Homo sapiens: one gene and its partners. The protein of the gene in region 4 interacts with the protein of the main gene of each other region in a pairwise test. Each region holds a gene or a part of one and is shown on either strand. Other genes may lie near its edges.

Region 1 (3,941 bases), on a different chromosome or scaffold from region 4:
CAAAAATTAATTAATTAATTAAACAAACAGAATAAAAAAAATCTATTGAATACCTACTATGCCAGGCATTGTTTTAGACACTGGGGATACTGTGATGAGCAAGAAAACATCCCAGACCTCTGGAGTTTGCTTTGTAGTGGGGAGATGATCAATAAACAATAAATATTTAATATAATGTCAGATAATGATAAGTACTATGAATGAAAACATTAAAGCAGGGTAAAGGAGAATAGGGATGCTGATTTAGATTGAGTGGCCAAGGAAGGCTTCTCTAAAGTGATGACACTTGAGCAAAGACACAAATGAGAGTCAATATTTGGAGGAAGAACATTCCAGGTATGGGGAATAGCAAATTTAGAGACCCTGAGGCAGAAATATGCTTAATGCATTGGAGGAAAACATGCCATTTATTCATTAGGCAATTATTGTGTGCCAAGCACCTGCTAGGGAGTATGAAGATGCAATCAAACATAGTTTTTGCCCTGAAGAAGCAGCAGGGCAAAAGTGGTATAACATGTAAATAAATAATTACACTGCACGGGACAGCTACAGTAAAGCTATGTACAAGTTGCTAGTGATGCCCAGCAAAAGGAGCACTAAAGGGAAATCTTTCTGGGGGAGGTGACATTTTAGCTGATGGTTTGAAGGAATAGGAGGAATTGATGATGCAAAGGAGGAGGAGAGAGATTAGACATCTTAAGGCCCGATGTCCTGAAAACAAAGGACAATTTGGGAACCTGAAGTTCCCAGGAGAGGCAAAAAATGAGGCTGATGAAGGTGGAAGAGCCTGGATCATGCGGATCTTTGAATGCCAAACTGAAAAGCTGGTTTTATTCTCTGGATGACGGGGAACCAGTAGCACGATTCTCTCTCCCACTGTATCTTTGAGATGTGTTCCCCTATTCTTTTTTTTTTTTTTTTTCTTTCAGTACTGGATTCTTTCCCCGCTTCCCGCTATTGCCCTGCTCCTGACACCTCCTTCCTTCTGTGGCCAGTCCTCCAATCCCTGCTTTCAGGAGAGCCCCATTTTTCACCATCACCTACCTAGTGTCCCACCTCCCCAACCCGAGGCCCCGCCCCCATGGCCCCGCCTCAGATGACGCGACACGCCAAGTGCGTGGGGATTCCCGCGGCCCTGGCCACTACCCGGCCTGCCCCGCGGCAAGATGGCGGCCTGAACGCAGCTGGCAGCGGCGGAAAGTTTGTTGTGGGGTTGGAGTAGTCGGGCGGGGAAGCCAGAGTTGGGGAGGATTGCGGGGGCCCTAGCCTGTAGTAGGGGCGAAGGGGGTACTGGCTCCAGGGTTGAAAAGAGGAGATGGAATGGAGTAAGGTCCGAGGCGGAGAGGAAAAAAAGGAGCTGGGGCGGACCGGGGCCCTAGGGTCCAGTGGCAGCCCTAGGGGAGGGGGATTTGGGGGCGGGGCAGCCAGAAGTAGGTGTTGTGCAGGCCCTGGAGAAGCAGAGTCACAAGTTGGAGGAAAATTTCTTAGCCGCGAATAAAGAAGCCTGGAGCGTGGGATAGAGGCCCGACTGTATCTGGCCGGCCAGAGGGGAAAGGGATCTTTCTAGTAGAGTGGGATAGTGAGGAAGAGAGATCTGGAGGATGCCGGGCAGATCTGCTAAGGAGGGAACTAAAGCCAGTCAAATGACCCTCTTCTAGGCTTAGATCAGCCTTTCCACAGCTGTTAGCAGCATCTGCCCCAATTTCAGCTGAAGATTCAGGTGCCCCAGGGACTGGAAGAAATTACAGTGCCTACTTGGAAAGAAGAAGAGATAGCGACTTGCCCCAGTCCAACCCCAGAGCGGGTAAGGTGGCTTCCAGTGACAGGTTTCTGGCTGGCATGCTCCCTGGGAGGAGGATGCATGGGCTTAGAGTGATGCCAAGAAACATTTGGTCTGAAAAGGGCTCACTTTTATAGAGTTTGTCCTTTGTCTGAGGTCCTTAAGTTAGTGTTTGGCGTAGATTGCAGGCTGACTTTTGAGAGTTGGTGTAGAATTAAGCCTTGTGTGCCTTCACCTATGCAAGTAAACCTGGACAGAGGCCTAGAGACCAGGCCGAAGGATGTTAACACATCCCTGTCACAAGCAGTTTCCTACATGCTCATTGTTTCTGCTTCAATATCCCCATCACTTCTTCACTTTGGCGTCCTGCCTGGAAGTGGAGATTTGTGGGTGACAGATGGTGGGGAGTCACGAGAAAACAAATTCTGATCGTGTTCACTGACCATTTAGGTACCTGCTGTCACTGACTCCTGAATTCATTCTCGCTGTGTGTCTACTTTTGCTTTTTTGGTAAGAAGGGCTCATTAGTGTTCCTCTGGGGATGTGGATTTTGGTGGGGGTATCAGAGGTGAGGGAAAGGCAGGTTGGGATTAGAGAGAAAAAATGTAGATCAGTTTCTGGTAAGAGATCAAGTGGACTGATGTAAAGCTCTGGGAATGTTTAGCACCGCACTGCCTATCCTTGAGACCCCTAATATTTGAGAGCTACTTTACAGTTGGACAAGTGTGGTGATGCAAAGAAAGGATCATGGAACTTGCTCTTTTCTTTTCTGGTAGTTTTTTTCTCTCCTTTGTAATCTTCCCATCAAACCACTTTTGAAAAATATCAGTCTCAGTAGCCAAACTAAGCATGGCCTGAGAGGTAGTGGATTTGGTGTTGGAGAGAAAGGAAAGGGACTGGAGCCAGAGAACACAGTGAATGTGGCCTTCACTTCCTTTGGTGAGTGTTTTGCCCTAGCCAGAGTTGGGAGTAGCCTTCTTATTGAAGCCTGCTTCAGGATCAGCATCGCTTCATGGTGGACTAGGATGGTTTGATCTAGAACTCTTCATTTACTGTCTGCTCTGTACCTGTCCCCCCAATCAAAGGCTTACTCCAAACAGAACAACCCAAGTCACTGTTACTAGGTCAGCTTCAGTACCTTTAGGTATTTGAAGAACTGATGATATGTAGCTGTGACTCTGTTTCTGAAGGTTGAGAACCTCCTTTTTCTGAGGACAATTCGTGCCCCCTTTCAAATTGTAATTGTAATCACCCAAGGGTAGTGTGGTGAACACACATAACAGTTAATAGCACTGACTCTGAGCCCGGCCTAGTGGCACATACCTGTAGTCCCAGCTACTTGGGATACTGAGATGGGAGGAGCACTTGAGGCCAGGAGTTTGAGGCTGCAATGCACTATGATGGCACCTGTGAATACCCATTGTACTCCAGCCTGGGCAGCGTAGGAGATGCAGTCTCCAAGAAACAACAAAAAAAGCACTGGCAGGGTGCAGTGGCTCACTCCTGTAATTCTAGCATTTTGGGAGGCCGAGGCAGGCGGATCACGAGGTCAAGAGATCGAGACCATCCTGGCCAACAAGGTGAAACCCCATCTCTACTAAAAATACAAAAATCGGCTGGGCGTGGTGGCATGCGCCTGTAGTCCCAGCTACTCAGGAGGCTGAGGCAGGAGAATCGCTTGAACCTGGGTGGTGGAGGTTGCAGTGAGCTGAGATTGCACCACTGCACTCCAGTCAGGTGACAGAGCAAGACTCCATCCATCTCAAGAAAAAAAGCGTCTCCAAAAAAAAAAAGTCTGTTTGACTTTGCCATTTGTAGCTCTGTGACCTTTATTAATGGCATAGCTTTGTATGCCTCAGTTTTCTTATCAATCAAATGTGGGTAGTAAGAGTATCTATCGCATAGGGTTGTTGTGAAGGTAAATTAGTTAATACATTAATATGCTTACTCAGTGCCTGACAGTAAGTTTTAGTTATACTAGTCAGATCTCAGCACTAATTTCTGTTTCATGGTTGAACCTGCTGTCTCTTTATATAGATAGCATCTGCATTGGTTTGGGCTGCTAGCCTGATGTTAAAGAGATGAAGCAGAGCTTTTGGATAATACAGATTTTTTTGTCGTGAGAATATCCTCATTAGGCTATTTAAGGCAATGTTAAAAT
Region 2 (3,500 bases), on a different chromosome or scaffold from region 4:
GATGCAGAAGGCCTTTGAGGAGGGGCAGGTGAGCAGGACGGGGTAGGGGGTCCTCCAGGGAGGGTCAGGTGGGGGTGGAGGGGGGCCTTCGGGGAGGGGTAGGTGAGCAGGACTGGGGGGGTACCTCCAGGAAGTGTCAGGTGAGGAGGTGGGGGGTGGGGTAGGGGCCTCCGTGGAGGGGCATGTGGGTGGGCACCTCTGGGGAGGAGCAGGTTGGGGGGGCCTTTGGGGAGGTTCAGGTGAGGGGGGCCTCCAGGGAGGGGCAGTTAGCAGGGGGAGGGGGCATTCAGGGAGGGGCAGGTGAGGGGGGCCTCTGGGGAGGGGCAGGTGAGTCGGGGGCACACCTGGGCTACGCCTGTGTTGGCCCTGCCACAGAGGCTGTGAAACCCTGTCCCACTGTCCTGATGGGGTTGTGGGGAGTGGTGACAATGACTTGTTATAACCAGAGAAGGCTGAGGATGGTGGACCCTGGTGCTGGCTCCTGAGGGGTCATAGCAGGGGTGGCCCCCATCAGGTTCAGCTGGACATTTCAGGCACCATCTGGGTCTGGGCACAGGGGTGGTGGGAGGTGGGGCCAAGGGGTGCCCTCCCCTGTGTCTGCCCAGCCCACAGCAGCCGGGTGAGGGTGCAGTGGGGAGGCCACCCTGGGCCCTGCTTCCTCCCCCGTCCCTGGGCCTCAGTGTCCTTGGGCTTAATGACAGGGCCATGCCGGGTGGGGGATGCAACTCCCATCCCTCTTCATTCCCGTATGACCCACTCTGCCCCTTCCTGCTGCCCTGCAGCAGTGCCCTCCCCTCCCCTCCCCACCACGGGGCCCTCTGCCGTCGCTATTGGGGATGGTCTTGGGTAGGGTCTCCCTGGTAGGTGTTCAGAGCCACCACTCTGGGGGGCCTCTGCTTGTTCCTGCCCCAGGCCCAGTGGGACTGTGTGAACCCCAAATACAAGCAGAAGAGACGCAGTTATAAGAACTCAGGAGTGGTCGTCCTGGCTGACCTCAAGGTGAGAGGTGGCTGTGCCCGAAGCCTCCCCACCCACAAGAGGGGCTTCCGCTGCCTCCCTCTGATTGTTGGATGGACCCTCAACCAGAGGCCTGGTGGGCCCCAGCACGTCTGGGGAGGGGCTGAGAGACGGGGAAGGGCGAGGTTGGGGAGAGAGGATGGGGGAGAGGAGAGGAGGGTGGCACCCCAGAGGGACTGGGCTGCCTGCGGGAGGCAGGCCTGGATCCCAGCTGGCACTGGCCTCAGTGTCCCTGGCGGGGGTGGACGCTGACTCCGCCGGCCGGAAGTTCCACAGGGTGTACTCCTTCCTGGACTATATCATGGGCGGCTGCCAGATCCACTTCACCGTGAGTCCATGGCCCCGCCCCATGCCGCCCCCTCAGTCCGTGGCCCCGCCCCGCCCCGCCCCCTCAGTCCGTGGCCCCGCCCCTCCCCGCCCCCTCAGTCTGTGGCCCCGCCCATCCCCGCCCCCTCAGTCCGTGGCCCCGCCCCTCCCGCCCCCTCAGTCTGTGGCCCCGCCCATCCCCGCCCCCTCAGTCTGTGGCCCCGCCCATCCCCGCCCCCTCAGTCCGTGGCCCCGCCCCCGCCCCCGCCCCCGCCCCGCTCCCGAGGGGTCCCAGCCTGGCGGGTGAAAGGGCACTGGCGGTTCCCCGTGAGCCGATGTCTCCATGCGCGGCTCCTGGGGGTCCTCCCTTTTGCGCAGGCGAGGAAACGGGCTTGGGGTTCAGGAAGCAGCCCCAAGCCCGCCTTGGGAGGTGACATCACCAGGGCTTACCTTCCACAAACACATTTAACAACAGACAAAACGTGAACGAGGAGAAACTGGAGTGAGCGTTTGAGTGAACCAGCCACAGTCTCTACGTGTCATCCAAGGAGCCCGGCACAGACCCCGTGTCACCCCCATGTCACCCGCAGACCCCGCGTCACCCATAGATACGCACACCCCGTGTCACCCCCATAGCACCCCCGTGTCACCCACAGATACACGGCCCCCGTGTCACCCGCGTGTCACCCACAGAAACACGGCCCCCGTGTCACCCACAGATACACGGCCCCCCGTGTCACCCGCGTGTCACCCACAGATACACGGCCCCCGTGTTACCCACAGATACACGGCCCCCCGTGTCACCCGCGTGTCACCCACAGATACACGGCCCCCGTGTCACCCGCGTGTCACCCACAGATACACGGCCCCCCGTGTTACCCACAGATACACGGCCCCCGTGTCACCCACAGATACACGGCCCCCCGTGTTACCCACAGATACACGGCCCCCCGTGTCACCCGCGTGTCACCCACAGATACACGGCCCCCCGTGTTACCCACAGATACACGGCCCCCGTGTCACCCACAGATACACGGCCCCCGTGTCACCCGCGTGTCACCCACAGATACACGGCCCCCGTGTCACCCGCGTGTCACCCACAGATACACGGCCCCCGTGTCACCCGCGTGTCACCCACAGATACACGGCCCCCGTGTCACCCGCGTGTTATTTGCAGATGCGCTGGTTCGTGTTTTGTTGAACGAGCCCCAGAATGGCTTTGGGAGAAGCCAGCAAGTGGGAAACGTGGGGGGACCCAGACCAGGCTTGGTCCACTTAGGCCCTGCCGGGGAGGGTGGTAGAGGGGTTGGGCGGCCACTAAGAAGGATGGGCGGGGCCCCCACAAGGCCAGGGTGATCCTGGTGGGGTGTCCTCCCGGAGATCCAGGGAGCCTAGGGGCTGGCAGGTTTTGAGGAGACCTCTCCTGGCCCTGTGTAGCAGGTGGGTCAGCCCCAACAGCAGCCCCCCAGCCCTACCCACCTACGCGACCCCTGACCCTGAGTCCTGGCCACTCTGGGCGTGGTTTCTCTACCTGTCAGGAGCGGGTTCGGGGAGCCCCGGCCCAGCACAGCTCCTGGCTCCCGGCCCACTGCAGGTGGCCATTGACTTCACCGCCTCCAATGGAGACCCGCGGAACAGCTGCTCCCTGCACTACATCAACCCCTACCAGCCGAACGAGTACCTGAAGGCACTGGTGTCCGTGGGCGAGATCTGCCAGGACTATGACAGGTGCGCCCACCACCTTCCCCTCACCCCCTGGTCTCCAGGTCAGCTATGACAGGTGCGCCTGGCCGTCTTCCCCCTCACCCCCCTGGTCTCCAGGTCAGCTATGACAGGTGCACCCGGCCGGTTTTCCCTCACCCCCCTGGGCTCCAGGTCAGGCCTCGGGGCACCATGAGGTGGGCACTGTGAGTTTGTCAGACTGTGAGGGGCCGGGCGCGGTAGCTCATGCCTGTAATCCCAGCATTTTGGGAGGCCGAGGCGGGTGGATCACCTGAGGTCAGGAGTTTGAGACCAGCCTGGCCAACATGGTGAAACCCCATCTCTACTGAAAATACAAAAATTAGCTGGGCGTGGTGGCAGATGCCTGTAATCCCAGCTACTCAGGAGGCTGAGGCAGGAGAATCACTGGAACCCGGGAGGCGGAGGTTACAGTGAGTCAAGATCACACCTTTGTA
Region 3 (3,500 bases), on a different chromosome or scaffold from region 4:
CTAGTATTAAAGCAGTTGTTCCTGACCAATATCCAATATTTTATTATGTTCCAAAATGCCTACATCACTAATATTTTACATTTTAATAAACTGTTAAGTTCTCACACCAGTCTAACTGCTCTAATACAATTAAAAAAAAAAAGATTAGAGAAAGGATTGCGTGTTGAATAGTTACTTATAAAGCTCTGTGATTGACGTGCTTTGATAACACTTTTTAAGCCTGATTAATAATACCCACATTTAGGTGATTAGAAAACCAATCTGGACTTATTTTAATGGGTTAGATTCAGGAGTCCTTAGAATGCTTATGATATTTCTTCTCAACTGATTCCAGACATTCTATTAGCAGGACAAAAATCAAGTAAAAACATCAAACACGTATTAGATTTCAGGATACTGTATTGTTATTTCCTTGATATATATCTTATCACCATGACCTTGAAATGAATTTTTTTTTTTTTGGTACTCATCTCCCTCTGTCACCCTGGCTGGAGTGCAGTGGCGTGATCACAGCTCACTGCAGTCACCACCTCCCAAGTTCAAGCAATCCTCCTCTGCCTCAGCTTCCCACAGATGAATAGCTGAGACCACAGGAGTGCTCCATGCCCAGTTAATTTTTTATTTTTTTTTGTAGAGACAGGTTCTCACCATGTTGCCCAGGCTGGTCATGAACTCCTGGGCTCAAGAGACTCTCCTGCCTTGACGTCCCTAAGTGCTGTGATTACAGGTGTGAGCCACCTGGCCTGGCAAAACCGGAATTTCATCACAACTGGTGATAAATATTATAAAAACGAGAAGGATTATATGGAATTATTTTCAAGACATACTATTTAATTTTAAAAAGCCAGAACAATATATTGAGTGGAATACTTGAGGAAAACCTTCTTTCACAATTTATACAGGATTCTATTTATGTCCCATAAGTACACCAAAAACACTCTGAAAAGGATACATACCTCTAGAAAAAGGACTGGATTTGGGAAAGGTGGTCAGCAGGATTGCTTTATCTTATTCATTAGAAATTTGTGGTTGGGCCTGGCGGCTCATGCCTGTAATTCCAGCCCTTTGGGAGGCCAAGGCGGGTGGATCACTTGAGGTCAGGAGTTCAAGACCAGCCTGGCCAACATGGTGACCCTGTCTCTACTAAAAATACAAAAATTAGCTGGGTGTGGTGGTGCTTGCCTGTAATTCCAGGTCCATGGGAGGCTGAGGCAGGAGAATCCCTTGAACCCAGAGGCGGAAGCTGCAGTGAGCTGAGATTGCGCCACTGTACTCTAGCCTGGGTGACAAAACGAGACTCTCTCGGAAAAAAAAAAAAAAGAATTTTTAAGAAAAGTGGATTAGTAATTTAAAAAAAAATGAATTCTTGATCTTGTTCTCTTTTTTTTTTTCTTTTTTTTTGAGATGGAGTTTCACTTGTCTGGTGGCCAGGCTGGAGTGCAATGGCACGATCTTGGCTCACTGCAACCTCCGCCTCCCAGGTTCATGCAATTCTCCTGGCTCAGCCTCCCAAGTAGCTGGGATTACAGGTGCCCACCATGCCTGGCTAATTTTTGTATTTTTAGTAGAGATGGGGTTTTGCCAAGTTGGCCAGGCTGGTCTCGAACTCCTAACCTCAGGTGATCCACCTGCCTTGGCCTCCCAAAGTGCTGGGATTACAGGTGTGAGCCACTGCACCTGACCTCTCTTTTCTATCTTAAAAGATGACCAATGAAGGCCAGGTGTGATGGCTCATGCCTGTAACCCCAGCACTTTGGGAGGCCGAGGTGGGTGAATCACTTGAGGTTAGGAGTTCAAGACCAGCCTGACCAATACGGTGAAACCCTGTCTCTACTAAAAATATGAAAATTAGCTGGGCGTGGTGGCGCACGCCTGTAATCCCAGCTACTCAGGAGGCTGAGGAAGGAGAATCACTTGAACCTGGGATGCGGAGGTTGCAGTGAGCCAAGATCGTGCCACTGCACTCCAGTCTGAGCAATTGAGTGAGACTCAGCCTCAAAAAAAAAAAAAAAAAAAAAAAAAAGAGATGATCAGTGAGAAAGCTAAGAAGGCAGATACTAGGAGAAGGTCTGGGGTCAAGTGCGCTGACTTCAGAACCAAGACCACGAAGCCTAACCTTAAGTCCCAGAAGGGTAATGAGCTGCAGAGCCTGCCTGCATATGCAGGCCCCTTCTAGTCAAAGGCAAGGGCAGAGATTTCTAATCCCCAGTGTTTTCTAGAGATGGACTAGTTTACCACCACCCTTGAAACCAAAGTTCAAAGATTCCTCCTACTGCCACAGTACCAATTTCCAGTGATAAGAAGGAAGATACCCTAATAGTTAAAATGATCACCCTTTGAAAACAGGGCCTGGTAAGGTGCTAAGAGGTGGGATACCCGGGTACAATCTAGAAGCACTGCTGTGATGGTTCTGCTATCATTCCCTCAGTACCGAGCTACTTCTGAGGAAAACACATGGTTTTGCTGAAGCAGCTGAGCACTGGCTCCTTGTGCCTGGACCATTAACTACTATAGTTACTACTATGGTTGAAATTTCTGGTATAAAAAATCCAAACCACTTCAATGATGTGTGCTCCTAGGTACTAAAAAGTGAGTTCTTCAACATAAAGAAAGACAAATAAAAGGTTTCAGCACCAGACAAATCGGAAAAGCACAGAATGAGAAGTTCCACAAAAACCATAGCTACTCATGTTCCATATTCTCTCTCAGGACATAATTTATCCTCTTTGCAAAGAACTCAAATTAAAGTAAATAAAATGGATAAGTGTGGTTTCTTCCCATAGCTAATAGAACGATCTCTCGCAAATCTATTCAGTTGCAAAGACAATTTCATATGAAAGGACAGATGTTTTCCAGACACCAGATTATTGACAGTTCAAAAGAGAACTTAATTGTCAACATGTTTGTTATTCCTATGGTTTCTAAGTGCTACTATTTTAATACTCCAATTATGAACACCATAATGAATCTCAATTAGAAGAGGCTTGCCAAATGTCACTCCATAGATCAAGACATCTTGTTATTGTCTTTCAATTTACTTCTTAAATATACAAATGTGGAGTTTTCGTCTCTGGTTTAGACATAAAAGTATTCTATAGCCTGTGTTCCCCTAAGAAGTTTATCTTCAACTTGATTACTCACTCATGTTCAGCCATATCTGGTAGATAAGCAGCATTCTCTTGTGATGGGTGGGCCATAAAAACAACATCAAGATTTGTAAAAGCCCCTGCTTCAATTAAATCAATTTTGCCACCACCATCTTCTTCTGCAGGGGTTCCCAGGACAACTACCTAGAAGGAAATACTCATGTCAGGGAAAAACAACAAAATCCTCATAGGAATATATCAAACAGGTTCACCTGCATATGTATTCACAATCTACATTAAAGTCCTTAACCTATTAAGACAGGTTTTGTTCTATGACGCTTACGCAATGGGCATCAACAAATGGTGCTAAATTAATCACAAAATGTACATTGTTATACCAACTTGGTGCAAAGT
Region 4 (3,500 bases):
TACTAAACTACCCCAGCTCTGATGCTTCTCCCCCGAACTCCCTTATCCCATGGCAGGACAACATCTAACAAGGAGAGAGTACTGATTCCCAAATTCTAGGACACTGGGTAATTTCCCAAGGAATCAACACATACCTGCTCCCTTCCCCTTCCCTGAAAAGTATTAAAAAAAAAAAAAGGCAAGCTGTCCCTCAGCTCATTGGTCAGGGGGCTTCCTACCCTTTGAAGATGCCTCATTCTGGGCGCTACCCCTCCAAAGGCAGAGACCTGGGTCTGTGGAAAGGGAGAGAGAGGTAGAAAGTGATGGAGTCACACTGTGCAGGGGGAAGCAGTGTCCCAGATGTCCCCAATGCTCTTAAAGAAGCCGTTTATGTTGGCATACTGAACAGACACGTGTCACATTCAAATCTATGTAATTCCAATTCAGAGGATGCTTACCCACCCTCATGCCTGGGGAAAGCACACAGATGGGAGCCTTGAGAAGTAAGGCTGGGAAAGATTTTCACCACACTGATCTTTTGGGATGAATGGGAATACCTAGGGAATAGCTGGGAGAATCTGCCAGGAATACCAAGGAAAGGATTCCTGACCTAGATGGGTAGTTAACCACGAAGATTTAAGATTCTTCATCTTATGCCTTGGTGATGCTGAGTTTACTGCCCTGCAGGAGCTGTCCCAGTTGCAGACCCAGGTCGGTGACACATCCGTGGTGCTGTCCATGGACAACAACCGCAACCTGGACCTGGATAGTATCATCGCCGAGGTCAAAGCACAATACGAGGACATTGCCAACCGCAGCCGGGCCGAGGCTGAGTCCTGGTACCAGACCAAGGTGAGCATGGACACCTCCATGAGAGGTTCCAGGGTTAGTGTTCTCTGAGGCTCCACATTATCACTTAACTCAGCCTCAGGAAACGTGTGAGCACATTCGTTTATTTCAACTTAGCAGGCATGTCTTTGATGCTATGACAACTTAGCTTGAAATGCATGTGGAAACCGAACCAGACACACTAATACATGGTCAGCCCAATGCTGGGAGCTCAGGACATCCACTGGCCCCACATTCCTCAAGATCTGGGTGGGAGCAGGGTGAGACACCAGGACAACCGAGACACAGTCATGAAGCAGTTTCTAAAAGGCTTATTTATTCTCTATATATTTTCTGAGCTCCTGCTGTATGCCAATCAGGGTTACAGGGTTGCAAATAAATAAACTGCAAACAGAGAACCCAAGCTCTGGGAGGCCATGAAGTGAATGGACAATCATGGAAGGGAAAAGATAGCATGAATAAAAAGCTTCCAGGAAGACATGGGGGCTTTGTACAGTTGGGAAGCCATGAGGGACAAAAGATTGCTGAGGAGTGGGGAGAGGTTTAAGGCTGAACAAGGAGCTGGCAGGCAAGAACAAGCAAGGGAGTTTATGTCAGGAAGAGGAAGGCTGGGATAAACACAAACAGCTACTGCCCAGAGCTCAGACAGCCGCAAAGAAGTTTGGCTTTGCGGGGTACAATTGACCCATGATACCAGCTCCCTGTCAAATCCAGACCCCTCTTGGGGCAGCTTCTCACCTACGAGCAGGTTCCAACTCTTTCCCTGCTCCATACGTTGCCTCATCCCTTCTGGTCAGGAGTGTGGTGGAAAGGAAGGTGGGTAGCAGGGACCAGGGTTCCACAGGGCAGAGGCAGCGCCTTGACGGTGAAAGGAAACATGATGCACTTAACCCCAAGGTGAAGTGGTTGAAATCGATAGCAAACGATTCCTCATGTTGTTGGGTTGTTGCTCCATTTAATCATGTATACCTAGAAGCGGGAACCTGAGCTATTCAGCACTTTCAAGAACCCCACAGATCTTGACTCTGGCAGGGGATCTCCTTTTGTCAGGGAAAGGTGTAGGTTTCACTTCAGTCTGCTGGAGGAGACAGGGTGTAATTATTGCTCTTAAATTCACATGTCCTGGATATGCACCATTAGATTGAGAACTACCTGAGATTGGGAATACTTTTACAAAGTCTTCAAAATTGTGCCTTCCACAGCCTCTGCACCATCCCACACCATTCCCCCATATCTCCTCCCTGTTTCCCCAGCACTGGTGTTTGGAGGGCTACCAAAATTCATGGGCACAGTTGGTCTGGATGCACGCTCTGTGACCAGGAACTACCCAGGGACCTTGATCAAATCACCGTCTCACTCCTAGAACTCACCATGTTCCTTCCCTGACCCAGAGTCTTCATGCAGGCTGTTTCCTTTGTCTGGAATGTTCTCCCCCACAACTGGTCACTTAGGTCCCTCCTTCTCATCCTTCAGACCACAGTTCAAGCATCTCCATCTCTGGAGAGACTTCTCTGACCACCACTTCCCACTTCCAAATCTAGGTCAGATTCCTTCATTACACTCTCCCAGGACCCTGTTCATTTCCTAAGGGCACTTATCTTAGTGTGGAACTATACATTTGATAATATGCTAATTCAGTTAATGTCTATGTCCCCCAATAAACTGTAAGCTTCAGGGGGAATGAGTGAATGACCAGGAATGAATGAGCCTGCTTGTGGCACCCAGGGTGGGTCTGTGTGCACAGCGAGTGCCTGGGCCAGGCATTTGACTCAGTGACTGGGTTTGCTCTGGTTCTCTCAGTACGAGGAGCTGCAGGTCACCGCAGGCAGACATGGGGATGACCTTCGAAACACCAAACAAGAGATCTCTGAAATGAACCGCATGATCCAGAGGCTGAGAGCTGAGATTGACAGCGTCAAGAAGCAGGTAAAGATTTGGCAGGGCCAAGAGCTCCTCAAATGCTCATTTCTTCTGGGCCTTTCTGCCATCTTTAAGAACTCCTCCCCAAGAAGCACCACACCTCCATGGGCTGTCAGCAGGACTCATGGCTTCCTCCTGTCCTTACAGTGTTCCAGCTTGCAAACGGCCATTGCTGATGCAGAGCAGCGGGGAGAACTGGCTCTCAAGGATGCACGGGCCAAGCTGGTGGACCTTGAGGAGGCCCTGCAGAAGGCCAAGCAGGACATGGCTCGGCTCCTGCGTGAGTACCAGGAGCTGATGAACATCAAGCTGGCCCTGGACGTGGAGATCGCCACCTACCGCAAGCTGCTGGAAGGCGAGGAGTGCAGGTGAGGCAGATGCACCAACTTCATCCTCAAAGCAAGTTGAGCTCACCTCAGCTTCCTGGGCATTCCTAGGGGCTCGGGCTGTTGCAGCCCCTTCTTCTCCTGGAAGAAAATGCAGTTCAGAATTGGGCTATGGCAAAAAAATAATTTTAATTTCCTTCCAGGCTAGTAAATCATTTGAGGTGCAACTACAGTTAGCATCCCCATAGAAACCTAAAACCTGATCAGGTCTAAGTAACTGAATTCTACCAAAGGAGACATTTGGTTACATGGCAGCTCTCGAAATGTGGTCTAAAAGGCCATGGGCTGAGAACAAACAGTCCTAGGATTTGGGCTTACAGATCTAACACTAAGTAGCTACATAACCTTGGGAAAGTCAGTCTCCCT
Region 5 (3,500 bases), on a different chromosome or scaffold from region 4:
ACAGGCGTGAGCCACCATGCCCGGCCAAGTCTGTCTTTCTTCATCTTAATTTTTCTCTCTGTAGCCAGGTATAGCTCCTGCATTAGGGCAGTCAGTGTAAGATTTCAGCAAGAGTCTTTACATCAGAAGTTCTCATCAAGAAGATTGGAATCTACCACTGACCTTACCCAGTATGTCCCTAAGCCAGCTGCTACTACAATGGCTTACTATGAAGGGGCATGCATCTAAAAATCTGCTGATGACACCCTCAATTTACTCTTAATTCCTATGTCTGAGAAGTCCATAGCCTTCTCTGTGGCTTTCATTTCATCATCACTCACTTTGGCTCATAGCGTGTGTGTGGAAGTAGATGTTCACCATAATGCAGAGCTGAGGGAGGCCTCACTGCCAGCAACCAGAGCAATGAGGCTGGAGCCCAGGCCTCTGTTACCAGGCTCACTATTCCCTCTGGCATAATTCAAGGCCTCCCTATGCTTATGGAATCTATCTAAAACTTGTTTAATAAGAACATGATAAATTTGACCTCATATCATAGGTGGGGAAACAAAGACAGCACCGTGTGAACTAGGGTTAGAGGTGCTAAAACTAGAAAGTGCTCCACTCTCCTGATCTTTCCATCTCCCTGCAGGAACTCTCTTCTCCCATCCCAAAGAATTCATCTGGAATATCAGCCCCTACGTGGGAGTCCCCATTCATCCTACAGTTCATTTCCTCTGTTCCCTCCAGATTAGGCCTCAGCTATCAGTGATTTTTTTTATACCCATTTTTGAACAAATAACATTTTTTTCTTTCTCACTCTTTTTTCCTAGAGCATTGATATTCACTTAAAAAAAGACATTCGGAGAGGAGTTGTCAATAACCAACAGACAGACTGGTCGTTTAAGTTGGATGGAGTTCTTCACGATGCCTCCCAGGACTTGGTTTATGAGACAGTTGCAAAGGATGTGGTTTCTCAGGCCCTCGATGGCTATAATGGTAACTTAATTAATTAAATGTTGTCTTATGTAAGAACCTGAGGAGTAAGAGATGCAAATATTTTATGGTGAATAAAATAAAAGCTCACTCACTATCATTTGTATGTTTGTCTGTCTCCATGTTCTTACGTTGCAAAACTTACTGTTTGCTTGTTGACATTGTGGGCATGGCTTGATCCAATGTCCTGGGATTCTACCTTCATAGGAAAATTAAAAGACTATGGCTCTCTATAGGTCACAGGGGTTCAATTATCCTGTTTCAAATCTCTCAAGTATTAGTTTTGAAGATACGTCTTTATGACAAATTTGATGGAGTCCAAACATTTGTCTCTCAGCTTCCTGCTAGGAGCTATTTTCATGTATTCTACCAACACAATCAATGTACAGTTGATATTCTAGTATAGGATTGTATAAAAGAATATGTCACAGTTTGTAGACTTTGCCATCTGGTGGCTGCTGACTAGGATGTTCCCTGTTTTGCAAGTTTAGGTTTTATATTTAAAAGTGCATTGAGTGTAGATGCTGTAATTTATCCTGAATGTGATACGTAGGTGTGGTCCCCACTGACTTAAGGAGGTTCTCTTTTGGTTTTCATGATGCTCTGATTGTGACCTTGAGGAGGTGAAGACAGAGGAACTAAGGCCCAGGGAGATGAATAGTCTTGAGCACTGGTGCTGTGGAACCACAAATGGGCTCTGATTTGCAGCTGAAGTGACTCCTTCCTGTTCATTTGTGTTGGGTTAATAGACACCATTTCTGGCTCCAACTCAGATGCTGAATCAGGATCGCTTGTGTAAAACCTGCCACCAGTCCCAAGAACTAGAGTGTCTGTGTGACAAAGGCAAAAAATTTTCACAGCCCAGCATTGCCTGGGCAGATCTGCCATGTAAATGCCCATGGGCAGCCTGTGGGATGGGGTCTGGCTCAGGCTGCCCATGCTAAGGGGAAGAACAGATAGGAGCCGGAGCTCAGGGTGACTGCATGGTTTGTGTCCCGGAGCCTGGTGGTGATGGTAGACCTAAAGGATGTTGAGAAGTGCAATGAAAGTCTTCCCAGGGTGGGCAGTGGACCAGATCAGGGCCTGATCATGGTGGTACATTTCTGGAAGTGACATGGAACCAACTAGGAGCCCTGTTTCATCCTGCAGGAATTTGTAGTCTACAAAGAATTCTCACCCTTGACAGAAAATGCCCTTTCCACTCCATCTCTTCCTGGAGATTTTGAAAGCCCCTCTTTGCCTCTGTGGGGAAGTTGATGCCTCCTGCCAACCCTGAGACCCTGGCAGTTCATAGCTGTGCTAGAGAAGGGCTGGAGTCTAATGCTCCTATCTCCCTCCTCATCTTTTTAGGAAAAGTTCCAGTTCCTCTGTACCCTGAGATTCCCTGTCCTTCTCAGAAGCCCTAGGGCCGGATCATCTCTTGGTGGAGGGAACAGCAGAGCATTGTGGGGACCACAGATTCAGGGCAGATGTCCTTGTTTTGACCACTTTTGTCCCTGTTCCCCTGCCCACCCATCCTCTTCCATGGTGGAATTCCTGATGTTCTTGGCTGCCCCCACTGGCCATCTTCATGCAAAGGGCCCTGGCTGGCACCAGGCATGCTGGGAGAGGGGAGAGTTATCCTTGGAGCTATTTTCCTGGATGTCACCGTGTTTTGAAATGTTTGCAGGCACCATCATGTGTTATGGGCAGACGGGAGCTGGCAAGACATACACCATGATGGGGGCAACTGAGAATTACAAGCACCGGGGGATCCTCCCTCGTGCCCTGCAGCAGGTAGAGAGTGGGCCCAAGGGTGGGATGCCACACAGGTTCCCTCTCTCTGCCATAGATGTTACTGACCCTGGGCCAGCTACTAGAGACAGTGGGGACCAGGCCTCAAAGGAGTTGCAGTGGATACTGGTACTGGAGACAACATACACAGGGCTCTGGAGTCAGTAGAGTCAGGGGCCTCAGGAAACCAGGAGGTTGGGTGTCAGACTCTGAGCCATACCCACACTGAGCCTGTTTCCTCATTTGGGAAGGAGGGAGTCAGGCATGCTAATCAGCCTCTTGCTGCTCCAGTGGTCTGTGATCCTGTAATTAAGGATTTGGAGGTCCTAATCATTCTCTTTCCTGGTTTTAATGAGGGGCATATAGACCCTTGCAGAACTTCCTTACTGGCCTACTCTGGCTTTTTTCACCACCACAGCCCCTGAAAGATCAAAAGCAAGAAGGAGGGCATGACTTGAGCTTTCAGGACTGTGTCAGCCCGGGGGGTCTCAATAGCATAACTGAAGATAAGACAGAAGGGCCTTCCTTTGGGCCCCACTAGCCTGGGTTCTGTAAGGACCCTCTGGTCGGAGGTAGGAGGCAAAAGCTGCCAAGAGGCAGCTTTACAGCCCTGTCCTATAAGAAGTGTTATAGGACAGGATTTTTTGCAGCCCTGTCCTATAAGAAGTGTATACATTCCTCTAGTATGTGAACCATCCATGCTCCTGTTTTTGGAGCAATACCCTTAATATCCCACTGTCAAAGCTTCAGTATCT
Region 6 (3,500 bases), on a different chromosome or scaffold from region 4:
ATGTTAAACTCACCTGGCTAAACCCCAACTCTTGTCAAGGGTTGCACTCCATGCCTGCATCCAGACAGATGAATGTGATTAAAGACAAACACCGTACCCCATTGGGTTCCACTTGAATGTGGTAACCATGAACTTGAAGTAGGTTAGTGCTGCATCATGATCTGTCTGCATTTTCCTAGTGAATTGATCCTCCCATTAGCTGAGGTAACTCATACCTTCTCTCCTTAAAAGGGCAATGCTCCCACCCTTATTCTTATCTGATGGCCTTGCTGCCTACTGCAATGAAAAGAGAATCTGTACATCATCTTACCAGTAGTTCTGCCAGTCTACCTGCACCTGTAGCTATGCGCTATGCATTTCATCTTATTAGAAAAATGAACTGCCTACTTCTATCTTAGTCCATTCCCTCTCTTTGTACTGGACTCTATCCATGCTCACCTATTCAAAAGCTTTGCTCCAGCCAGGCACAGTGGTATGCACCTGCAATTCCAGCTACTTGGGAGGCTTAGGTGGAAAAATTGCTTGAACCCAGGAGTTAGAGTTCAGCCTGGGCAATATAACGAGACCCTGTCTCTTTAAAAAAAAAAAAGCTTTGCCCTTACAGTTATCACCTCTACTAGGGCAGAAACTGTATGTTATTTACTGCTATGATTCCATTGCTTAGAGGAGTGCCTGGCATATAATATGTGCTCAATAAATATCAGTTAAATACTGAATTGCAATTCAGGGTGTCAGCCAAACACTTGAAGCCCTAACTACTTCTCTGTATCACACTACCTTATCTGATACTCTCACATTAACTATTAGCTGATAGAATAAACAAACTCGTGAACCCCATGATGATATTTAAATAACCCAGTTGTGTGTTACTTGAGTTAGAGTATTTTATTTTTATTTTTATTTTTATTTTTTTTTATTCTTTTTTGTATTTTTAGTAGAGATGGGGTTTCGCCATGTTGGCCAGGCTGTTTTTGAACCTCAGACCTCAGGTGATCCACCCGCCTCGGCCTCCCAAAGTGCTGGGATTACAGGCGTGAGCCACCACACCCAGCCCTTAAGAGTATTTTTAAAGCAAGGTGGATTTTAATGGGCTCTTAATTACCTTAGTGCTCTAGAAACTCTTAGTGCTCTAAGCTATATACCCACTTAGAGTTGCAGTGAAAAGCCTTATTATTGCTGGGTGCAGTGGCTCACGCCTGTAATCCCAGCGCTTTGGGAGGCCGAGGCGTGTGGATCACAAGGTCAGCAGTTCAAGACCAGCCTGGCCAACATAGTGAAACCCCGTCTCTACTCAAAATACAAAAAAAAAAGGCCGGGCACAGTGGCTTACACTTTGTAGTCCCAGCACTTTGGGAGGCCGAGGCGGGCGGATCACCTGAGGTCGGGAGTTCGAGACCAGCCTGACCAACATGGAAAAACCCCGTCTCTACTAAAAATACAAAATTAGCCAGGCTTGGCGCATGCCTGTAATCCCAGCTACTCAGGAGGCTGAGGCAGGAGAATCGCTTGAACCCGGGAGGTGGAGGTTGTGGTGAGCCAAGATCATGCCATTGCACTCCAGCCTGGGCAACTAGAGCAAACCTCTGTCTCAAAAAAAAAAAAAAAAAAATTAGCCGGGCGTGGTGGCAGGGACCTGTAGTCCCAGCTACTTGGGAGGCTGAGGCAGGAGAATCGCTTGAACCCGGGAGGTGGAGGTTGCAGTGAGCCAAGATCATGCCACTGCACTCCAGCCTGAGTGACAGAATGAGACTCTGTCTCAAAAAAAAAAAAAAAAAAAAAAAGCCTTATTATTTATGGTAGAATTGCAGTATGGAGAGATAAGGAAACTGATCATGAAGAGGAAAGTAGCTTAGAGAATTATGATCATTAAGGGCAGCTTTTCTAGCTTAGATAAATAGTTTTGGGTGGTAAGCCTTAAGAAAAAGTCACTGACAAAAAGTCGACCACCCATGAGGGAAATACTTGGAATGAGTTAGAGACAAAAAGACATTTTGAATTTTTTATTTTCTACTTGCTAATATGATAAACTGAAATAAGTCTTCTCTCTTGTATTTTTTAGTACTGCTGGCGTTGGACAGGTTTTAACTTCGGCTTCGACCTACTTGTAACTTACACCAATCGATACATCATTTTCAAACGCAATACACTGAATCAGCCATGTAGCGGATCTGTCAGTTTACAGCCTCGAAGGAGCATAGCATTTAGGTAGGATGAGATTTCCCCACCCCACTCCTCCTCACTCCAGAGAAAATATAAGAAATAAAACCTTGATAATTTACACCAACATTAGTAGAACTTTGGTAAGCTACAGTATATGTGGAAGTGGTAGGAAATGACGAGGCTCCATTCCTGTGAAATCTATTGTTAGTAATCAGAATCATAGGATCTAGTATGTCAGGGAGAATGAATAGGCTGGAATATATACCAGTAGGGAATATCAGCCTTGAAGTCGTTGCCTTGTTGCTATTCCTAGCAAATAAAAGATCCAGACTGTTGAAATATGTAGCAAGGTATGTTTCCAGGAAAACACATATTATCCTTAACTTTTTAAAGGATTTAATATGTTAAATTTTGCCCAGTAGTTGCTGGCAATCTTTTTCTGAGAGGATACCAGAAGCTGACAAATTGGACAGTAGCTTAATGAACATGATTTAAAAGTCATATATTTATACTTACCTTACACCAAATACAAAAATTAACTTAAAATGGATCAAAGATCTAAGCATAAGAACTGCAACTATGAAACTCTTGGAAGAAAACATAGGGGAAAAGCTTCATAACAATTGATTTGGCAGTGATTTCTTCCATAAGACACCCAAGCACAGGCAACAAAAGAAGCAGTAGATAAAATTGGACTTCATCAAAATCACAAACTTGTGTATCAGAGGACAGTGTCAAGACAGTGAAAAGGCAACCCATGGAATGAGAGCAGATATTTGTAACGCTACATTTGATAAGACATTAATACCCAGAATATATAGAAAACTCCTACAACTCTATAATTTAAAAAGAAAACTCAACTCAGCTCAAAAATGGGCCAAAGACTTCCATAAACATTTCTCCAAAGAAGATATATAAATGGCTAATAAACACATGAAAAGATGTTCAACATTACTAATTAGGGACATACAAACCAAAATCACAATGAGCTATCACTTCACACCTATTAGGATAGCTATTAGTAAAAACAGAATAGAAAAAAAACAACAAAAGTAACAGGTGTTGGCAAGGATGTGGAGTATTTAGAACCCTTGTGTACTGCTCGTGGCCATGTAAAATGGCACAGCCACTATGGAGCATGGTATGACACTTCCTCAAAAAAATTAAACAGAATTACCATATGATCCAGCAGTTTCTCTTCTATAGACCAGAAGAATTGAAAATAGGGACTTAAACAGATATTTTTGTATACTTATGTTCATAACAGCATTATTCACAATAGCCAAAAGGTGGAAGCAACCCACATGTTCACTGACAGATGCTAGAGAAACAAAATGTGG
Region 7 (3,500 bases), about 12 Mb from region 4:
ATGATATAATTAAAGACTTGAAATACTCTCCTGTGTAACAGTAGATCAGATAAGGTACACAGTATGTTTTATCTTTTATAATCACCGCTTTAATAGCAGATGTGCTATTAAATAGGAAAAGTGCCCTTCACGTGCCATTTTATAATTGCATATTATAAAATGATCACACCCTTAACTCATCCTCTGCAATTTCTCAGTAGTATGGCACTTGACAAAGCACTTGCTCTCATTCTTCATAATAACCCCATGAAGGCTGCGGGGCATTTTTGTGTTGTTGCTGCTGTAAGAAAACAGGTTTGATTATCTAACTGATGGAATTTATATTTATTTAACCTATTTTTAGGAATGACCCCAAGTTGCATATATTCGGAAGCCTGCATTTAATGTTTTAACTGTTTTTCTATTAAGTTTACTGATTTGTTATAGGTTTGCAACTCTCAGAATATTTTGTTTATATTAGCAGGGCATTGAGATTGTTTATTCTAAATGCATTTTTTTGTTTTGCAATCTTATAGGCCCTGGCCTATTTTGAGCAGTTAAAAATTTCCCCAGATGCCTGGCAGGTGTGTGCAGAAGCTCTAGCCCAGAGGACATACAGGTAATTAAAAACAAAATTTGCATGACAATTTAAATTTCTGTGGACATGACAGGACTGTGAAATTTACCTGTATTTGGAAAGTGTTTTCATAAAAACATTTTATGACTTTTTTTTTTTTTTGCAAAGCCATTAACATATAGTCATTCCATGTAGAAATGAGAAAAGTAGTAAACCCAGTTTGGCCATTTCAGAATTAACTTTTCAGTAAAACCATCCTTTGGTATATATTGTGTACCTGTCACCAGATCCCAGCTGGAATAAAGTGCAGTAAAAACTTCCTTATCTTATGATTGAGGGTGATAACTGCTTTCCTAAAACTTTGGTAAAGACGGTGATTGTAAATGATATATATCTTAATTTTAAAATTATTTATTTATTTTATTATTATTATTATTATTTTCTTGAGATGGAGTCTCGCTTTGTCGCCCAGGCTGAAGTGCAGTGGCGCAATCTAGGCTCACTGCAAGCTTCGCCTCCTGGGTTCTTGCCATTCTCCTGCCTCAGCCTCCTGAGTAGCTGGGACTACAGGTGCCCATCACCATGCCCGGCTAATTTTTTTGTATTTCTTTTTGGTGGAGACAGGGTTTCACTGTGTTGGCCAGGATGGTCTCGATCTCCTGACCTTGTGATCCGCCCGTCTCGGCCTTCCAAAGTGCTGGGATTACAGGCGTGAGCCACCGTACCCGGCCTATATCTTAATTTTTAATTTTAACTTAAGGTATATAATCATTCGGTGACCAATCTTTTAATATTGGACCACAGTCTTTATCTTTGTATACTAACTAGCATTCACTTTATTCGTAGGTTGGTCACACCTGTAACCCATCCTCTACAATTTCTAGCATGGGTCTCTGTACAATGAGTGACGATCCATAGATTTTTAAGATATTTGTCCCCGCCTCTCAAGTCTTCTGGTTATATAGGCCATGTCAAATATGTACAAGATTTTTTCCTTCTGCAGTGTGGCTTTCTATGAAATCTTTCTAAAGCATTCAACTAACTTTTTACGGAAATAGGAACTCTCTTATACTCACTTCATTGGCAGATTGTTGGTCTCTAGAAGATCTTTGTCAGTGTTTATAGCTGGCTAACTGCAACTCTGCCACTCCCCTAGAAAGACAGTTGGAAGTGGGTAATTGGTGTGTTGACTTTTGCCCCCATCTTGTATAAGCAAGGGTACCATATTTGTAATTTAGTGTCCTGTACGAAACTTTGAAGTTGGACTGACAGTCCATGTGGCCCTGCTTGTTTTGGATTTGGCTACAATAGAACTACTGGGGTTGAATTTTAAGCAGGACTTGGACGACCATCTTTACTTTCACTCAGACTCTGTCTGTTCTGCCATTTGTAATTTTACACCTAACCTGTTATTGTAAAATGAAGGGACTGTTCCAGGAATCTTAATATCTGGAATTTAGAGGGATGGTTTGCTGCTTACAAAGCATTGTATTCAAGGTGCATCTTAATATCTTGGTTAGTTTGCTTGTCAGATTTAATGGAAATTTTAAATATTGTGTAATATTTAGAGTTCTCATAGCTTTTTAAGTAAATGGATTTTAATGTCATAAAATGAGACCAGTAAGTATGAAACAAGCCAAAGGTCTAGTTTGAGAAACTTTTCTGCTGTATTACTCATTACTATTTTGCCTTTGATTTGTTTTCCTCAGTTCATATTCTGCTTATCTCATTTTCTTTTTTTCTTTTTCAGTGATGATCATGTGAAGTTTTTCTGCTTTCAAGTACTGGAACATCAAGTTAAATACAAGTAAGGCTTTTCTTACTGTTTTGACTCAGATTTGCGGGGAGAGGTCATTTTTTTAATTTAATGTTTTTCTTCCATAAGGAAACCATAATACAGGTTGTAAATTCACAGTGTATATGTTATATCCAGGTTATAGATACGTTTTGATGTACCCCAAAGTGTTTTAAAAGTGCTGAGTTGGCCAGGTGAGGTGGCTCTCGCCTGTAATCCGAGCACTTTGGGAGGCTGAGGCCGGTAGATCACTTGAAGTCAGGAGTTTGAGACTAACCAGCCTGGCCAACATGGTGAAACCCCGTCTCTACAAAAAATACAGAAACTAGTCAGATGTGGTGGCATGCACCTGTAATCCCAGCTACTCAGGAGACTGAGGCACGAGAATTGCTTGAACCTGGGAGGCGGAGGTTGCAGTGAGCCGGGATCACACCACTGCACTCCAGACTGGGTGACAGCGAGACTCCGTCTCAAAAATAAAAAAAGTGCTGAGTTTGTTGGTTACACATAAAAATCCAAGGCTGGGCGCAGTGGCTCATGCCTATGATCTCAGCACTTTGGGAGTCCAAGGCAAGAGGATCGTTTGAGCTCAGGAGTTTGAGACCAGCCTAGGCAACATAGTGAGACCTCATCTCTACAAAAATTTTTTTAAAAAATTAGCCAGGCATGATTGCGCGCTTCTGTATTCCCAGCTACTGGGGAAGCTGAGGCCAGGAGGTTGAGGCTCCAGTGAGCCATGATGGTGCCACTGCACTTCAGCCTGGGCAATACAGCAAGACCTTGTCTCAAAAAAAAAAAAAAAAATGAAAATCCAGATATTTCACAGAAAAATCTAGATTTCCAGCTTTTCTGGAAAAGTCAGAATATCTGGTAACACCAGGCCTGTTTTTCTACATGACAATTCTCTCTTAGAGTTAAGTAGCTGCATGGGCACTTGTGTTCAGAATCTCTGACTTACTAATTAAGCAAAATAACAAATCACTACTGAGAGGATTCCTAGTTCACCTATTGGTTTATTCTGTAGATCACAGACCACAAAACATTTTCATTCGAAAAATTGTGTAGCCATCATTTGTTTCAACATGAACAGAATCACAAATTAAAGATTGATATTGATGCCCTACCTGCCACTCTTGTCCTTATCTTTAA

What was found.
Region 1: the proteins of KRT75 (region 4) and TJAP1 interact in binary tests that used the Homo sapiens proteins (3 or more experiments, as listed by UniProt).
Region 2: the proteins of KRT75 (region 4) and CPNE7 interact in binary tests that used the Homo sapiens proteins (3 or more experiments, as listed by UniProt).
Region 3: the proteins of KRT75 (region 4) and PM20D2 interact in binary tests that used the Homo sapiens proteins (3 or more experiments, as listed by UniProt).
Region 5: the proteins of KRT75 (region 4) and KIF9 interact in binary tests that used the Homo sapiens proteins (3 or more experiments, as listed by UniProt).
Region 6: the proteins of KRT75 (region 4) and GMCL1 interact in binary tests that used the Homo sapiens proteins (3 or more experiments, as listed by UniProt).
Region 7: the proteins of KRT75 (region 4) and XPOT interact in binary tests that used the Homo sapiens proteins (3 or more experiments, as listed by UniProt).

The regions. Positions count from the first base shown.
Region 1 is NC_000006.12:43,476,429-43,480,369, forward strand, and holds the start of TJAP1 (tight junction-associated protein 1), read left to right. Parts: upstream 1-1,141; 5' UTR 1,142-1,200; exon of another isoform or gene 1,201-1,658; 5' UTR 1,659-1,804; intron 1,805-2,230; exon of another isoform or gene 2,231-2,290; intron 2,291-3,941. UniProt on the Homo sapiens protein: Plays a role in regulating the structure of the Golgi apparatus.
Region 2 is NC_000016.10:89,585,758-89,589,257, forward strand, and holds part of CPNE7 (copine-7), read left to right. Parts: coding exon 1-28; intron 29-912; coding exon 913-999; intron 1,000-1,285; coding exon 1,286-1,345; intron 1,346-1,798; coding exon of another isoform or gene 1,799-1,837; exon of another isoform or gene 1,838-2,917; coding exon 2,918-3,051; intron 3,052-3,500. UniProt on the Homo sapiens protein: Calcium-dependent phospholipid-binding protein that may play a role in calcium-mediated intracellular processes.
Region 3 is NC_000006.12:89,149,055-89,152,554, reverse strand, and holds part of PM20D2 (xaa-Arg dipeptidase), read right to left. Parts: exon of another isoform or gene 3,291-3,500; coding exon 3,142-3,290; intron 770-3,141; exon of another isoform or gene 649-769; intron 1-648. UniProt on the Homo sapiens protein: Catalyzes the peptide bond hydrolysis in dipeptides having basic amino acids lysine, ornithine or arginine at C-terminus. Postulated to function in a metabolite repair mechanism by eliminating alternate dipeptide by-products formed during carnosine synthesis.
Region 4 is NC_000012.12:52,427,872-52,431,371, reverse strand, and holds part of KRT75 (keratin, type II cytoskeletal 75), read left to right. Parts: intron 1-666; coding exon 667-831; intron 832-2,628; coding exon 2,629-2,754; intron 2,755-2,895; coding exon 2,896-3,116; intron 3,117-3,500.
Region 5 is NC_000003.12:47,272,800-47,276,299, reverse strand, and holds part of KIF9 (kinesin-like protein KIF9), read left to right. Parts: intron 1-809; coding exon 810-975; coding exon of another isoform or gene 976-992; exon of another isoform or gene 993-1,072; intron 1,073-2,641; coding exon 2,642-2,748; intron 2,749-3,500. UniProt on the Homo sapiens protein: Essential for normal male fertility and for progressive motility of spermatozoa.
Region 6 is NC_000002.12:69,867,660-69,871,159, forward strand, and holds part of GMCL1 (germ cell-less protein-like 1), read left to right. Parts: intron 1-39; exon of another isoform or gene 40-142; intron 143-2,059; coding exon 2,060-2,205; intron 2,206-3,500. UniProt on the Homo sapiens protein: Possible function in spermatogenesis. Enhances the degradation of MDM2 and increases the amount of p53 probably by modulating the nucleocytoplasmic transport.
Region 7 is NC_000012.12:64,414,392-64,417,891, forward strand, and holds part of XPOT (exportin-T), read left to right. Parts: intron 1-515; coding exon 516-598; intron 599-2,306; coding exon 2,307-2,363; intron 2,364-3,500. UniProt on the Homo sapiens protein: Mediates the nuclear export of aminoacylated tRNAs. In the nucleus binds to tRNA and to the GTPase Ran in its active GTP-bound form. Docking of this trimeric complex to the nuclear pore complex (NPC) is mediated through binding to nucleoporins.